Regions from separate parts of the Homo sapiens genome. Here region 2 is linked to region 1. Evidence: fine-mapped expression QTL. A gene starts in region 1. The other region holds a variant in brackets. All regions are shown on one strand. Distances are between the middles of the regions.

Evidence for each region.
Region 2: its variant is fine-mapped to the expression of LINC01936 in tibial artery (GTEx, PIP 0.98).

What each region holds. Positions count from the first base shown.
Region 1 is chr2:30,344,826-30,347,741 of GRCh38, reverse strand. It overlaps LINC01936 (long intergenic non-protein coding RNA 1936), which reads right to left and starts at 1,096. Exons shown (of 2, transcript NR_122048.1): 1 at 627-1,096.
Region 2 is chr2:30,370,427-30,373,342 of GRCh38, reverse strand. No RefSeq gene overlaps it. Among named protein-coding and RNA genes, the nearest start is that of LINC01936, 25 kb to the right of the region's middle. The variant G/T (reference allele first, on the strand shown) is at 1,594.

The DNA of each region.
Region 1 (2,916 bases):
TTCCTTCTTCCCTAGGCCTTTTCTCCTGAGTAAATTCTCTCCAGTGCCTGATAGCAGTTTGTAAACTTTTTCCCAGATGACTGCTCTCTATAATCTATAATTCTCATCAATTATATATGAAAATATACACCTATATCTAAGGACATATATATATATATTTATATATATAAAATATGTAAATATATTATATATAATGTATATAATTATATAGAGATATATTTTATCTTTCCTCTGTTCCTTTAAAGCAAATCACTCCCACTCCCACTGCCTTTTTTTTTTTTTTTTTTTTTTTTTGAGACAGGGTCCCGCTCTATTGACCAGGCTGGAATGCAGTGGTGCAATCATGCCTCACTGCAGCCTCTGCCTCCCCGGCTGAAGTGATCCTCCCACCTCGCCCTGCCAAGTAGCTGGGACTGCAGGCACGCACCATCACGTCGGGCTAATTTTTGTATTTTTTGTAGAGATGGGGTTTTGCCATGTTGCCCAGGCTGGTCTTGAACCCCTGACCTCAGGTGATCCACCCGCCTCGGCCTCCCAAAGTGTTGGGATTACAGGCGTGAGCCACCGCGCCCCACCTCCATCTTCTACATGAGGATAAGGAAGCTCTGAGAGGTTAAGTGACTTGCCTAAGGTCACTCAGCCAATGAATGGTGGAGCCCAGCACTTAGCTCAAGCCAGGCGGCGTCACCGCTCACTGCAGGCTGTTCCCACGTGGTCAGGCGCAGGGTCTTTCTGCCTCATCACTGAAGTGGGGACTTGAATACGGCTCTTCCTTTTCTTGCATCCTCCATGTGCCCTCCTGGTAAACCAGATCCCCACGGCCTCAGCCGCTCTTCATCGGCCTGACTTGGGCTTCCAGAGCCTGCCCAGCCCACGTGGGGCTGGTTTGGCAAAAACTGGGCTCTAGATTTTGCTTTAGCTGTTTTCTTTTCCACTTCATTGTTTCCGTGGGATGTCTGCCTTCCCAAAATAACACCGGGGCATTCCAGGTAAACTCAACATCCGACGAAAATCCCCATTCAGCGGCAAGTCCGAAGGGTCCTGGTTTTTGCTATTGTTTTCCTCCCTTCCTCTGGCTCAGGCGGGGTAGGCGTCTGGGACAGGTTCCCGGTGGAGCCTGGATGGAGGGGGAAGCAGGAGGAGGAGAGGAGGGGCTTGGCCAGCTCCAGCCAGCCAGCTGATACTCCCGCCCTCTGCGCTAGCACTGGAGGTAGCCCTGAGCTTTCCCTTCTCACTTTGCTGGGGAATGTTCAAAGGCCTGTAGGAAAAGAACTGGGCAGGGTCTTGTGCCCTACTTCACTTTTATCAGAGAAAGAAAATAAAACCAAGGTGGCCCCTAATTCTGCTCTGATTTCTGGAGGCAGCATGGATGATATCATGGAGAAGCACTGGCTTTGGATTAAGCCAGAGCTGGGCTGAATCCTGGCTCTGGTGCTTACCAGCTGTAAGCTGTAGCAGCTGTAAGTCCATAAACAGCTTATGTGTTCCTCTGAGCCTCCATTTCCTCATCAGTAAAATGGGAGTGATAGTGTCCCTATTAGAGCAATAAAGACAGATGAATTCAATGCCCCAAATAGGACCTGCCCCATAATAGGGGCTCAACCCATATAGAATAGTTTTCTCTGTACTTCCTAGGATATGGGAGGAGGGGGAGTTGCTTACTTCTTCTTTGCTTTTTTTTTTTTTTTTTTTTTTTTAAGACAGAGTCTTGCTCTGTCACCCAGGCTGGAGTGCAGTGGTGCGATCTTGGCTCACTGCAACCTCCGCCTCCCCGGGGGTTCAAGTGATTCTCATGCCTCAGCTTCCTGAGTAGCTGGGATTACAGGCATGCAGCGTCACTCCCAGCTCATTTTTTTTGTAATTTTAGTAGAGACATGGTTTCACCATGTTGGCCAGGCTGGTCTCGAACTCCTGACCTCAAATGATCCACCTGCCTCAGCTTCCCAAAGTGCTGGGATTACAGACAGGAGCCACCGCACCTGGCCTTCATTGCTTTTTGATGTCATTATTACCCAAGTGCTGAGAAGGTGCTGTTTAGAGGCCAACTTAGAGAAGTGGAAAAAGCAGAGAGAGTGTCGTCAGACAGGTAGGGCCCATGCCTTACTTGTTTATGTATGTACCCCTAACAGAATTTTGTAAAGCTATCCACTGTCTACCCCCAGCACATTTAAAAAATGAAGTTCAAAAGTTAAGTAGCTGCAAAAACTGTGGTTTCTGGCTTATTGTAAATATTGATATTTAAAACCTACTGTGACTTCACACTTTAAAATGGATCCAGTGGAATGTAACATCGACAATTTGGTAGCCCCTATCATCCATTTTAAAATTTATGAAAAAGCTGATTGGCATTCAGGAATTTTACATCTTTCTTTTTATCTCCTGGAACTCTTATTACTATTCCTACTTCCTTCACAGATTTTTATCCTGACATATTATTTTCTTATGCTTCAGAGTATTTTATTGATCACATTTACATACATGGAAAAAGCCGTTTTTCGTATTTTATACTTTTTTTTTTTGCTCTTGTAGGATTCTCCCCCAAGAGCAGGGGGAATGAAGAACAAAGTCATTAAATGAAAATTGTTATTTTATTTATTTATTTATTTATTTTGAGATGGAGTCTTGTTGTGTCGCCCAGGCTGGAGTGCAGTGGCACGATCTCGGCTCACTGCAACCTCTGCCTCCTGGGTTCACGCCATTCTCCTGCCTCAGCCTCCCGAGTAGCTGGGACCACAGGCGCCCACCACCACACCCGGCTAATTTTTTGTATTTTTAGTAGAGACGGGGTTTCACCGTGTTAGCCAGGATGGTCTCGATCTCCTGACCTCGTGATCCACCCGCCTCGGCTTCCCAAAGTGCTGGGATTACAGGCGTGAGCCACCGCACCCGGCCAAAAATTGTTATTATTCTCACCAC
Region 2 (2,916 bases), 26 kb before region 1:
TGCACTCCAGCCTGGGCGACAGAGCAAGACTCTATCTAAAAAAAAAAAAAAAAAAAAAAAATTCCCAGGGTGAAAAGTATCACTGCTATTTTCCTATTTTCCACTGTGTTTGTTGGCTGGATCTCCTTAGCAAAGAAATGGTCTTTCAGCATTTTGGTTACATATCATTATGTTCCATTTAGTAAACTCAGCTTACAAAAAGGAGGCTGGGGCAGCCAGTTTCCAATGCCCCAGTGCCTGTGACATGTTCTCATTTAATACTAATTGCTCCCTGTAAAATTTGGCCTCTTGAATTTTGTTTTTCCATGATCAGCATTCTTTATGTCTCCAACCAAAAGGCTCCATCACTCATGCATAACTCAGATAATTTATTGCATTGCCTCTGAGGAATTTCTTTCTATGGCATGTTTCTAGAAAACTCATTCAACTCCCAAATAAAACAATGGAAGGATGGATGGGATGGGGTCAGGAGAAGGATCTGGAGAGATGTGGGGTAAAAGGAGAAAATATCTAAGGATGGTGTTTAATCAGAAAACAAGATTTTCAGTTAGCATTTCTAAATTGCTGAGAAGCTGGGTATGGTGGCTCACACCTGTAATCCCAGCACTTTGGGAGGCCAAGTCAGGCAGATCACGAGGTCAAGAGATTGAGACCATCCTGGCCAACATGGTGAAACCCTGTCTCTACTAAAAATACAAAAATTAGCTGGGCATGGTGGCGGGTGCCTGTAACCCCAGCTACAGCTGAGGCAGAAGAATCGCTTGATCCCAGGAGGTGGAGGTTGCACTGAGCTGAGATCTTACCACTCCACTCCAGTCTGGGCGACAGAGTGAGACTCCATCTCAAAAAAAAAAAAAAAGAAAAAATTGCTGAGAAATGAATTGACAAAGCTGTTTAGTACAGAAGAGAGTGTTCAGCTTAGAGATGGCCCATGTGTGTGTAAGGAGGTGACAGAAAGTGTGTTGAGAAGGTGCAGCCAGCTAAGTGGTGGGCACAGGCAGGGGGAAGTGGGAGAGAGAGTGGCTGGAAGGAAGGAGAGTCAGGAGGCCATTGGGCATCTGAAGAGCAGACAGGATGGGTTCTGGGAAGCCCTGGTTTCCCCTGACGTGGCTGTGGCCCAACCAAGCTCAAGCCTCACATCCTACACCTTTCCCCGAATTACTCCAGCTAGGACTGGCTGCCTCTCTCAACTCCCATTGCGTGAATGTGTTTGTGCAATAATTTAAGCTGGCAACCCACAGCCATTTGAGGCATGCAATGTCATTTTGCCCTTGAGAGCTCAAACTTGCTACTTTGGGTTTGATTCAGTTTCTTGTTCCCAGAAGCAAATGACTTTTCACCTCTGGATCTCCACCCAAAGCATGTTTGGACCATGGACCCAGGCAGGCTTCGAGGAGCCAGATTTTCCTGCCTGCCAGTTGAGGTTTGCCCGTGCTGATTTTACACATTCCTATTAGTTTTTAATGAGTATTTTGTTTTAGCTATAAAATAGCAACTGCAGAGCCATAAACTTAGAGATCACGTGGTTGGAAGTGCATGCTTTAATTTTCAAAGTATCTCTACATAGAACCAGGTTCCTAAACCTTTATTAAC[G/T]CCTATCTTTGGTCAACTACTACACAAGAATTAATTGAGTGCTTACTTTATGCAAAGCCCCAAGCTAGATACTGTATTAGTCTGTTTTCACACTGCTGATAAAGACATACCCAAAACTGGGTAATTTATAAAGAAAAAGAGGTTTAGTGGACTCACAGTTTCACGTGGCTGGGGAAGCCTCACAATCACAGTGGAAGGCAAAAGGCACATCTTCCTTGGTGGCAGGGAAGAGAGAATGAGTACCAAATGAAAGGGGTTTCCCCTTATAAAACCATCAGATCTCATGAGACTTATTCACTATCAGGGAACAATATGGGGAAAACCACCCCCATGAGTCAATGATCTCCCACTAGGTCCCTCCCACAACATGTGGGAATTATGGGAGCTATAATTCCAGATGAGATTTGGGTGGGGACACAGGAAAACCATATCAGATGCTATAGAAGGCATGAAAAAAGTCCAACCCTCCTCTCAGGATTCGAGACAGGAAAGGATTGAAGAAGTGAGTACCAACCAGTTGACTACATCAAACCAAATGTACTCTCCCACCTATTGCTGGTACTCTATTGCCTCCCCAGCCTCATTTTTTTTCACCCTGTTGCCCTCTGTGCTCCAACTATCAGAAACTGAGAAGTTTCTAAAGAAAGTTGGGATGGGCCATGAAGAAGAAGACCTTCAAGTCCAGGTGAAGGATTTGTGCTTTGTACTTACTATAGAGCCTTTGGATTATTTGATTTTGTGAGGTTTGTTTTTTTTTTTTTGGACACTAGCAATTCCATATTATTGTCAAAGGCATTTCAGAACCTAGGACTAGCTCTGACCCTTGACTAGCACTTTCCAGAGTCTTTGATATTGGAAGTGTTAACAGATGTGTGATTTTTTTTTTTCCCAGTCAGGCAAAAAAGGGTAGTAGTCTCAAAGGAACCACATAACAAAGATACCAAATACTTGACTTTTGAGGCCCAAGGCCTCAATGCAGGTGTGAGACAGGAGTGATGGGTACCTAGTGGGTACTGTGCTCACTACCTGGGTGACAGATCATTTGTACCCCTAACCTCAGCATCATACAATAAACCCATGTAACAAACCTACACATGGAGTCTGAATCTAAAATAAAAGTTGAATTTGTTTGTTTGTTTGTTTGTTTGTTTTGTTTGTTTGTTTGAGATGGAGTTTCGCTCTTGTTGCCCGGGCTGCAGTACAATGGAGCGATCTTGGCTCACTGCAACCTCCGCCTCCCGGGTTCAAGCGATTCTCCTGCCTCAGCCTCCCGAGTAGCTGGGATTACAGGCATGCGCCACCACGCCTGGCTAATTTTGTATT